2 separate regions of the Homo sapiens genome follow, and region 1 is linked to region 2. Evidence: fine-mapped expression QTL. A gene starts in region 2. The other region holds a variant in brackets. All regions are shown on one strand. Distances are from middle to middle. Region 1 overlaps CRTC3 (CREB regulated transcription coactivator 3). Region 2 holds the start of UNC45A (unc-45 myosin chaperone A).

Region 1 (5,379 bases), 390 kb before region 2:
CTTTCTTCATTGTTTGTCTGTGTCTGTGTTTAAATCTTCCTCTCCTTTTTCTTATAAAGAACTAGTCATTGGATTTAGGGCCTACCCTAATTCAATATGATCTCACCTTTGCTTGATTACATCTGCAAAGATTCTGTTTTCAAATAAAGTCATATTCACAGGTTCTGGGGCTTAGGACTTGAAGATATCTCTTTTGGTGGCCATAATTTAACCCACTACATTGCATTGATCAGTAGTTCATTTCTTTTTATTGCTGAGTAGAATTCCATTCTATGGATGTAGATAATTTATGCATTCATCAGTTAGTTGATGGGCATTTGGGTTGTTTCCACCTTTTGGCAATTATGAATAAATATTCTATAAACATTCACATACAGTTTTTATGTAAGTAGCTAGTAGTGGAATTGCTAGATCATACAGTAAGTGTATATTAACTTTAGCTTTATAAGAAATCGCCAAGCTGTTCTCCAAAGTGGCTCTACTGTTTCACATTCTTACCAGCAGTGCATGAGAGTTCCAGCGACCCTGTATCTGCTCTAGCACTTGGTATTTCAGAGTTTCAAAAAAATGGTGGTTAAAAAACAGAACATAAAATTTACCATCTTAACCATTTTTTAAAGTAGTTTATTGGTATCTTCTAAAACCATTTTTAAATGTATAGTTCAGTGGTATTACATACATTCATATTGTGCAACCAATCTCCAGAATTTTTTCATCTGACAAAACTGAAATTCTATGCCCATTCAATAAGAATTCTCCATGTTCCCTTCCCACCAGCCTCTGGCAACTACTGTTTTTTCTGTCTCTATGACTTTGACTATTCTAAGTGCCTCATATGAGGGAAATCATATACTATTTGTCTTTTTTGTGACTGGCTTGTGCTTAGTATAATGTCTTCAGGGTTCACCCGTGTTATAGTCTGTGACATGATTTCCTTCCTTTTCAAGGCTGAGTAACATTTCATTGTATGTGGATGCCACATTTTGTTCCATTCATCCGCTAATGGATACTTGGGTTGCCGCCACCTCTTGGCTATTGTGAATAATGCTGCTATGAACATGGGTGTGCAAATATCTCTTCAAGGCTCTGCTTTCCATTCTTTTGGGTACATACTCAGAAGTAGGATTGCTGAATCATATGACAATTGTGGTTTTAATTTTTTTTTTTTTTTTTGAGACTGAATCTCGCTCTGTCGCCCAGGCTGGAGTGTAGTGGCGTGATCTCAGCTCACTGCTGCCTCCGCCTCCCAGGTTCAAGCAGTTCTACTGCCTGAGCCTCCTGAGTAGCTGGGTTTACAGGCGCGCCCCACCACACCTGGCTAATTTTTGTTTGTTTTTTTTTTTTACTTTTGAGATGGAGTCTCACTCTTTCGCCCAGGCTGGAGTGCAGTGGCACGATCTCGGCTCACTGCAACCTCCGCCTCCTGGGTTCAAGCAATTCTCCTGCCTCAGCCTCCCAAGTAGCTGGGACTACAGGCACCTGCCACCACGCCCGGGTAATTTTTTTTGTATTTTTAGTAGAGACGGGGTTTCACTGTGTTAGCCAGGATGGTCTCCATCTCCTGACTTTGTGATCCGCCCGCCTTGGCCTCCCAAAGTGCTGGGATTACAGGCGTGAGCCACTGCGCCTGGCCTTGTCTAGTTTTTAAATTGAGTTGTTAATTTTCTTAATCAGTTGTGAGAGTTGTTTATATATTCTGGATACCAGTTCTTTATCAGATATGTATTTTGCAAATATTTTCTCCCAGTCTGTGGCTTGTTTTTTCATTTTCTCAAGTCTCGAAGAGTAGAAGTTTTAAGTTTTGAAGTCTAGTTTATCAATTGTGTTATTTTATGATTTGTGCTTTTGTCTTATCTATTAATAAGAGTTCTTCATCTAACTCAAGTTCCCGAAGGTTTTTTTTCTATGTGTTTCTCTATTAGTTTTATAGCTCTGTCTTTTACACTTAAGTAAATTATGAGTTAATTTTTTTGTGTGGTACAGGGTTTGGGTTTGAGGCTCACTCATTTTGCATAGGGATGTTAAATTGTTCTAGAACCATTTGATGAAGACTTTCTTTTCCCTATTGAATGCCTTGGTACCTTTGTTGAAAATCAATTGACCATATACATGTGGGTCTATTTCCGGACTCTTCTGTGTCATTGGTTTCTTTGTCTATCATTTTGCTAATACCATCTTCTGTGTCATTGGTTTCTTTGTCTATCATTTTGCTAATACCACACTGTCTTGATTACTGTACCTTTATAGGAAGGCTTGGAATTAGGTAATGAGAGTCGTCTTTGTTCTTTTTTGAAGCTGTTTTGCTTATTTTCATTCCTTTGCTTTTCCATAACATTTTAGAATCAGCTTGTTAATGTCTATAAAAACACCTGCTAGGATTTTATTTTTATTTTTTTGAGACGGAGTCTCACTCTGTTGCCCAGGCTGGAGTGCAGTGGCACGATCTCCACTCACTGCAAGCTCTGCCCCCTGGGTTCATGCCATTCTCCTGCCTCAGCTTCCTGAGTAGCTGGGACTACAGGTGCCCGCCACCACGCCCAGCTAATTTTTCTGTATTTGTATTAGAGACGGGGTTTCACTGTGTTAGCCAGGATGGTCTCGATCTCCTGACCTCGTGATCCACCCGCCTCGGCCTCCCAGAGTGCTGGGATTACAGGCGTGAGCCACAACGCCCGGCCAACACCTGCTAGGATTTTAAACAGGATTGCATTGAATCTATAGATAGGTTGGGGATAATTGACATCTTTATAATATGGAGTCTTCCACGAAGAAGACTTCCATGTACAGAAAAACAGATTTTTATTGAAGTTCAGTTGCTTATAATCATTTATATACAATTCTCCTTTTATTTTTATTATATTGATATA[T/C]TTTTGATTGACAAAATTGTATATATTTATGGTATACGATACGATATTTTCATAAATGTATACCTTGTGGAATGGCTAAATCAGACAAACATATGCATCCTCTCACATCATTATCATTTCTTTTGTGGTGAGAATCTGCTCTCAGCAATTTGCAATATATGATACATTGTTATTAACTTTAGCAATCATGATGTACTATAGATATCTTGAACTTGTTCTTCCTGTCTACTCCTTTTATGTTTGTAAATCACTTTGGAGTTTACAAAATGCTTTCATATCTGTTATTTTACTTCATCCTCTTACTACAACATTGGTTGGTAAGTGTAGTACTATTTTAATATACTAAAGACCAATTTTCTATCCTAATGGAGGATCTCAAAGTGCATTCTTTTTTTCTAACCCAATGAGCCCTTATGCAAAGAACGTAGACTTATCAGATGAGTAAACAAAAGCCAACTTTTCAGGCTGCCTTCTGATAATCTTTAGCAAGGGGCAGACCATCAGTAAAGGGGTAGCTAGGGTTATAGCCCTCATGTCTCTAGGCAGGGCCTGGCACACATACACTGAGGGCAGAGAGGAGGAAGTGGGCATTATCTTCTTCTCTGAGAGCGAGGGCTAGGGCTGTCTCTTCTGCTTAGTGGAGGGATAGCATGTTCCAGCCTGTGTAACAGCTAGGGCACATGTTGACTGAATGGCTTGTCAGGCAGCTGTAGAGAGAGGGACAAAGGGCTTCTCTCTGTATAGGGCTTTGTAGGTATAGTTGTAGCTTTTCGTATCCTTTTTTTTTTTTTTTTTTTTGTGACAAGGTCTCAAGGTCACCCAGCTGGAGCGCAATGATGTGATCTTGGCTCACTGCAACCTCCACCTCCTGGGCTCAAGGGATCCTCCTGTCTCAGCCCCCCAGGGTAGCAGGGAGTACAGGCGTAAGCCACCACACCCGGCCAGTTTTTGTATTTTTGTAGAGATAGAGTTTCACTATGTTGCCCAGGCTGGTCTCGAACTCCTGAGCTCAAGCGATCCACCCGCCGTGGCCTCCCAAAGTGGTAGGATTACAGGTGTGAGCCACCACTCCCAGCCTCGTATCCTTTATATAACCTACCCTAGTCCTTTCAAATCATATCACTAAAAACTAATTGTACTTTTTACATCTCTGATTAACTACATTTTAACAAAATTGCATCATGTCATGTGTAACTGAGGGCTTTTAAGTTCTAATTTAGGGAACAATCTGATGGTCAAGGGAAGAAACCCTTATACCAAGGCAGTTTGCAAAGGCCTGGAGGGCCAGGTCCAGCAAGGTGGTTTTCCTGGGGCCCACTACCAATATGAGTAGTATAATGAGGCCCAGAGTTCGCATAGCAAGTAAGTAAGAGAACCAGGACTTAAAAATCATGTCTTTGACTTCCAGTTCCATTTCCATGGTTTTCCTTTACTGCATTTCCTTTCAAGTTTTCATAAGGTTCTTTAAAGGAAAAAAAAAGATTGGCAAAAAGATACATCAGTTAAACAAAAGAAAACCTAAGTAGCAGTATTAATCTCAAAATACCACTACTAACCACAGCTGACATTTATTGAGTATGTGCTATGTGCCAGACACTGTGTTAAGCTCTCTATGTAGATGGTAATTGTCATAGCATTATATGACTTTTATGTGATAAAACAACATAGCAACAAATTGCAAAAAGGAAAAACTCCAAGAAATGAGAATTCGACAATAGCACAATTCTAGATTTTTAATTCACTACGACTGAGCCAATATTCAAAATAAAGATAATAAAGAGTTACACCATTAACAAATCAGAATTACTGTATACCAAAATTTATTCCCTAGAGTTTATTCTCTAAAAAGGTAAGATACCTTTCTAGATATTTCTAGACTCATTTTAAAAGCAATACTTCTTTTTCTGATTATAAATGTAACACTTGCTTATTACAGAAAACTGGTTACATCTTTTTTCACCATTTGGCCTTTTCTTTCAGTAGTTTTGCAGTGACTATAAATATTTTTTAACAAAATCAGCCTCATATGTATGTATAGTTTTGTATTTTCCTTCTATGTGTTCAATGGTTTTCAGAAACAGTATTTCTAGTGACTACATGCTATTCTGTCACATGGATATGCCACAGTTTCACTGCCCCCTTATTGTTTGGGTTGTTTTCACTCTTTGTTCATGGTGTGTGTGTGTGTGTGTGTATGTGTGTGTGTGTAGTGTAAATTGATCACATACTGGGCCAAATAAATTCTCAGTAAATTAAAAAAGGAGAAATTGAATCTGAACATAATTAATAAAATTGCAATTAATAATTAAATTTAAATTTAAAAATCCAGCTATTTGAAAATTTTAAAGCCTTTTTAATAACTATTAGATATACTATCAGGCAGGCTGGGTACCATGGCTCACGCCTGTAATCCTAGCACTTTAGGAGGCCGAGGCGGGCAGATTGCTTGAGCCCAGGAGTTGGAGAAAGATAGTGAAGAGCTAGAAGAATGCCTTCACTTTGAAAATCTGAG
Region 2 (5,379 bases):
TCCTTCCCAGTCCCCACCACCCAGGTGCCGCAGCCGGCGCTCCGCGGCCGACGCGCCCACCGATGGGGTGGTTGATGTAGGGGGTCCCCTCGGGGTCCTTCCGCCGCTGCTGCCGGTGCTTGCGAGCCGCGAAGTCGGCAGCCTCCAGCAGCTGCGCCGCCTCAGAGCCCATCGCGCGGATGGGGCCGACGACTGCGGCCGCAGGGGCAGGGACGGAACGTTTACAGCGCCCCCTGGCGCCGGGGAGGCCCGGGGATCGTGGAGGCTAATTCAGCGGGCCGAGTTGGGCCTGCCCCAGATGAATTCCTCTGGAGCTGACCGGCCCGCGCAGAGAGCAAGTGATGTGGACAGCTGCCTTCAGCATCGCAGCCCCCAGCTCAGTGTGCTCTGTTGGGGGTGCAAGAAGAACATAAGCCTGGCTCTTTGGGAGCCCACAGTCTGTGGAAAAGAGGAAGACAGACAAGAAATAAGGCAGTGGCCTCACAGTGCTCTGAATCCAGGGTGGCCAAGGCTCAGGGGACTATGGGAGCGGGAAGAAAGAACAATCCCCACACCCTCAGAGTCAGAGACAGCTTCTCCCAGAAGCTCCCCCCAAGAACCATCTTCAACCTGTAAAAGCTCTGAAAATTCTCCAAGTGTTCTAAAAATAGTTCTCCCTGTAGGGATGGGCCAGGTTCTGTGGGCAGGGGAGTCTACCTTTGGACCCTCCAGGAGACCCTAGGGCCTGACCTGAAAAATCAGAGCCTTCCCTGGGAGCCCTGCCTAATTGCTTCAGACTTAGGCTCCCAGGTAGCTGTGACGTTTCTGCAGGAACTGCCTTTGTTTGTCCTCAGTGTTGCAGATGAAATTTGCCTTGTCTTCTTATGCTATGAGAGCTCCTATTTCAGTCTCTAGGCATCTTCTGTGGGCCCCTGGGGTGATGAGTGTTGTCACTGCTGTCCTGGGAGCATGATGTTGTCAGGCCTGGGTAGGCACTGGAATAACACTTAATTCTGCTGGCTGGTGGCCTTCTGGAGAAATTCCCTGCCTTAGGGGCAGCTGAGGGGTAAGAGAGACCTGGTGATCCCCATAGAACTTCTCTGTGAGAGGGGGTTCCCTATTAGCTAAGTATACTCTAATCAGACATGTAGCTTTTGTGTTCTGGCTGGTAGCTGGGGCAGATAAGGCTCAGGGGAAAGGCTAATGAAAGGAGTCACCCTTGGTTTTCAGCTAGTCTTGGTGGTTGCCACGTAGCAGAGGTTAGGGAGGGAAGCCCCACATGCTGGAACTGAGGTCTCTGGGACCTGAAATAGGAGGGTCAGAATTCCCAGAGCTTCCATGGCAGCCTGGAAGTTGGAGAATGGGTAGAAACATATTTGGCTGTAAATGCTTGTTTGTTCTTCATACTAATGGCTCAGCTGCTCTCTCATCCCTCATTCTGTCCTCTAGTCCTTTGAGCCTTCTCTCCTTCAGCAGTTTGGCAATGCAGGCCCCACGTTTTCCAACAGGAGACAGAAACCCAGTCCCTGTCATCTCTCTCTAAAAGCCTGTGATAGAGAAGCTTCAGGCTCGTATTAATGGTGCCCAAGGGCCTTGGGGCTTTGACTTTTATTTCCTTATTGTCTGCAGTCACGGCCTAGAAAGAGAGATGTTGGGGTTCCCAGGACCAGGACAGAGGTGGTAGTGAACTCTCATGGGCATCCAGAGAAGGTCAGGCCCCTTGCTGACAGGCCTATCTGTGGGGCTACTGCTGCTCTTCAGCTGGGTGACCCTTGTCCAGCCAACCTCTCTCTCAGGTACAGCACTTACCCCTGTGGCCCACCTGCCTCTGGTGCTATGGGCTATTCCTGGGAACTGGAACTGATGGGGATGGGTGGAAGGGCATCTTTTCTTCTGGTAGGGGCTGATCTCTTTTACTCTCCAGTAGGGGTGGAGTGAGCTGTGGAAAGGCCCCTCCTGCTTGTCTCTAGCACCCCCACCTCTCTCTTCAGCTCTGGTCCACCACCCTCACTTGTGCCAGACCACCCGGGATGTCCATGGCCGTCACTACCCTGGTTTCTTTTGCCCTCGTCTGTCTGATTCTCCAGAGGAAGCCTACTGCTGCCACCTGCAGGCTGCAGGGGGCTCCTGCTGCACCCGGGCTGAATTTGAGGCCCTGTACCAAGTCAATCTGTCCGCTCTTCCGCCCCCGCCCATCCTCAGGTGAGATCTCCAACCCCAGAGCCACTGGAACATCGACAGGGTGTTCCAGTATCTGGGGCTCTGTTCCTAAATTATGGGGTGGTAGGCTTGTAACTTACAGACTAGTGAAGGGACAGACCGCAACAGAAAATCATGTAGATCATGATTACAATTACAAAGGAGAAGTTCAGGGGGCTGTGCAAGCTGGTAATGGGGAGCCATCCTGAATCTGCCCATGGGTGGCTCTAGGATGAGCTCCTAAATTCGTATGCAAATGTGTGTATGTAAGACGACACTTATTTGGGGAGGGAGTCCTGAGCTTTCTCCGGACTCCCAGGGATTCTGTACCCCCCACAGAGCGCAGCAGCGAGAGCGCGGTCGGGGCCGGGATCCAGATACTTTTTCTCTCCCGCAGGGGCCCAGGCCCGCTCCTAGTGCTGGGCCTCTACAACCTACTGGTTGTGACCCTGATGACCGTAGACCTCGTGCACTTCTGCTGCGGTCGGGGCCGGAGTCTGGGCTGGAGCCACCGCAGGCCTCCCTCTGGGTCCTCCGCCGCGAGCTCCCTGCAGGTCTCTGCGGGGACAGCTTAGGTGCGCCCGGAGCTTGCCTGCACCTGCGATCCAGAGCCAAGCGCCCCGCCCCTGCCCGGGCGCGCTCCCTCCTTAGCCCTGCCCCTCTCTGACCCCACCTCCGACGCAAGAGTGGGGCGGGGCAGCTGCCGGTGGCGTCCCGAACCCAGACTCGCCCCGCCCCAGAGACTGCGCCTGCGCGGGCACGAGACAACCTCTCCGCGATGACTGTGAGTGGTCCAGGGACCCCCGAGCCCCGGCCGGCCACCCCCGGGGTGCGTACCCAACCCCCGCGCCATCACCCCTTCGCACCCGCCCTGACCATCCCTGGCCTCCTTCTCCCCATCCATGAGGCTCGCCCCGATCCCTCCTCTCCTCTCCCCTTAGCTCCCGGGCTCTGCCCCGAACCCCCTCCGACGTTTCCGCCCCCTTTCTCTCTACAGGCCAGCTCAGTGGAGCAGCTGCGGAAGGAGGGCAATGAGCTGTTCAAATGTGGAGACTACGGGGGCGCCCTGGCGGCCTACACTCAGGCCCTGGGTCTGGACGCGACGCCCCAGGACCAGGCCGTTCTGCACCGGAACCGGGCCGCCTGCCACCTCAAGCTGGTGAGGGAGCCTGGCGCTCTTCCCCTCGCCCGCCCGGGCCCCGGTTCGCCCATCTAAGCTGATGCTTGGGCCCCAGCTGGACATTCACGCTCCCAGGCCATCCCCGCTTGCCAGATGTTTTTTGCACCTCAGGGTGGTGGGGGATCGGGTGACCTTGGAGAGCGAGAGTACCCCTGCTGCCTGGTTAGTGCCCCGAGAGGGAGATGACCATTCCTTCAGGCTCCTGTCTTTCTCTTACAGGAAGATTACGACAAAGCAGAAACAGAGGCATCCAAAGGTAGGGGAATGGTGGGCCCTGGTGTGGAGCTGTAGGGCTTCTGTGGTGGGCAAGGACTCTGGGACCGCTGCACCGTCACATTCTCCTCCTTTGGCCCCAGAGACACATCTGCCTTCTTTCTTTCCCACTGCCTCGGGCCTTTCCTTTTCTGCAGCTACCCTCACCTTTTCTGAGGCTGAAGCACCGAGCCCCACATTCGTCCCCCCCACCTTCTTCTGGCCTTTCCTCGAGATCTTTCCCTACTGCTCTTGCCTGGAGACAGTGGCCTCATGGGTGCTGACAGCGCTCCTGTTTGTGCTCAGCCATTGAAAAGGATGGTGGGGATGTCAAAGCACTCTACCGGCGGAGCCAAGCCCTAGAGAAGCTGGGCCGCCTGGACCAGGCTGTCCTTGACCTGCAGAGATGTGTGAGCTTGGAGCCCAAGAACAAAGTTTTCCAGGAGGCCTTGCGGAACATCGGGGGCCAGATTCAGGAGAAGGTATGTGAGTGACCCAGAGAGGTGGAAGCATTGACTGGTGGTGAAGGGGTCTGGGCCAGGGGTGTAGACACAGTTCTCCAGACGAGATCCCGGTGGCAAGTGAACCTTGCCTGTGGCCAGGGAAAAGCAAATTAAGATGACAGCACATTACTGTTGATTTGGAGGTCTGTCTGGCAGATATTTAAAAGTTTGTACACTTTTCGAGAAGGAGAGAGGCAGACACATCAGTGGTGAGGCTGGGGGCCAAGGGCTCTCTGATGACTGCTGGAGGGGTATAAATTGGTACAGCTCTTTTCGAGAGTACTTTAGCATATCTATTCAATTTCAAATGAGCGTATCTTGTGATCCCATATGTTTACTTCTTGCTGTTTCTCTCAGAGAAACCTTGTCCACGTGCACAAGTAGACATGTGTATGTTTATTTCAGCCTTTTTTGTAGTAAGAAAAACTTGGAACTTGCCTGAATGCCCAGCCATAGAGGAATGGCTGAATAAATGGGTAATGTCCTTACTACAGACTCTTATATAGTTACTGAGAATAGGTAGATACACACATATTGAAATGGGAAGCTCTGGGACACTTGTTGAATGAACAAAGCAAAATAGGCAGGGCATGGTGGTTCATGCCTGTAATCCCAGTGCTTTTGGAGGCCAAGATGGGATGATCACTGGAGGCCAGGAGTTTGAGACCAGCCTGGGCAACATAGTGAGACCCTGTTGCTACCAAAACCTAAAAAGTTAGCTGGGTGTGGTGGCACACCCTTGTAGTCCCAGCTACCTGTGAGGCTGAGGCAGGAGAGTCCTTTGAGCCCTGGATTTTGCAGTTACAGTGAGCTATGATCGTGCCACTGCACTCCAGCCTGGCTGACAGAGTGAGGCCCTGTCTCTTTCAAAAAAGAAAAGAAGAAGAAAAATATACAATAACACATATAGTATAATATCATTTATGTTAATGATCCCCTACATAGCAAAACAATGCTATATTTTTTCTGTGGGTACACTTGGGTATGTAAATACAAAGGAAAATAATTGTTTTTTTTTTTTTTGAGACGGAGTCTTGCTCTGTCGCCCACACTGGAGTGCAGTGGTGCGAACTTGGCTCACTGCAACCTCTGCCTCCCAGGTTCAAGTGAGTCTCCTGCCTCAGTCCCCCAGGTAGCTGGGACTACAGGGGCCTGCCACCACGCCCGGCTAATTTTTTGTATTTTTAGTAGAGATGCGGTTTCACTGTGTTGGCCAGGATGGTCTGGAGCTCCTGACCTTGTGATCTGCCTGCCTCGGCCTCCCAA

What was found. PIP is the estimated chance that this variant, and not a neighbour inherited with it, causes the effect.
Region 1: its variant is the best candidate, but not a certain one, in a credible set for the expression of UNC45A in esophagus muscle (GTEx, PIP 0.81).

What each region holds. Positions count from the first base shown.
Region 1 is chr15:90,544,245-90,549,623 of GRCh38, forward strand. The region is part of intron 2 of CRTC3 (CREB regulated transcription coactivator 3); the gene reads left to right. Among named protein-coding and RNA genes, the nearest start is that of CRTC3, 17 kb to the left of the region's middle. The variant T/C (reference allele first, on the strand shown) is at 2,868.
Region 2 is chr15:90,932,369-90,937,747 of GRCh38, forward strand. UNC45A (unc-45 myosin chaperone A) reads left to right here and starts at 2,917. Exons shown (of 20, transcript NM_018671.5): 1 at 2,917-3,007; 2 at 3,176-3,337; 3 at 3,578-3,614; 4 at 3,917-4,092. The coding sequence starts at 2,957. It overlaps HDDC3 (HD domain containing 3), which reads right to left and starts at 181. Exons shown (of 4, transcript NM_001286451.2): 1 at 61-181. The coding sequence starts at 172. RefSeq lists enhancers at 329-378, 2,003-2,102 and a silencer at 2,733-3,132.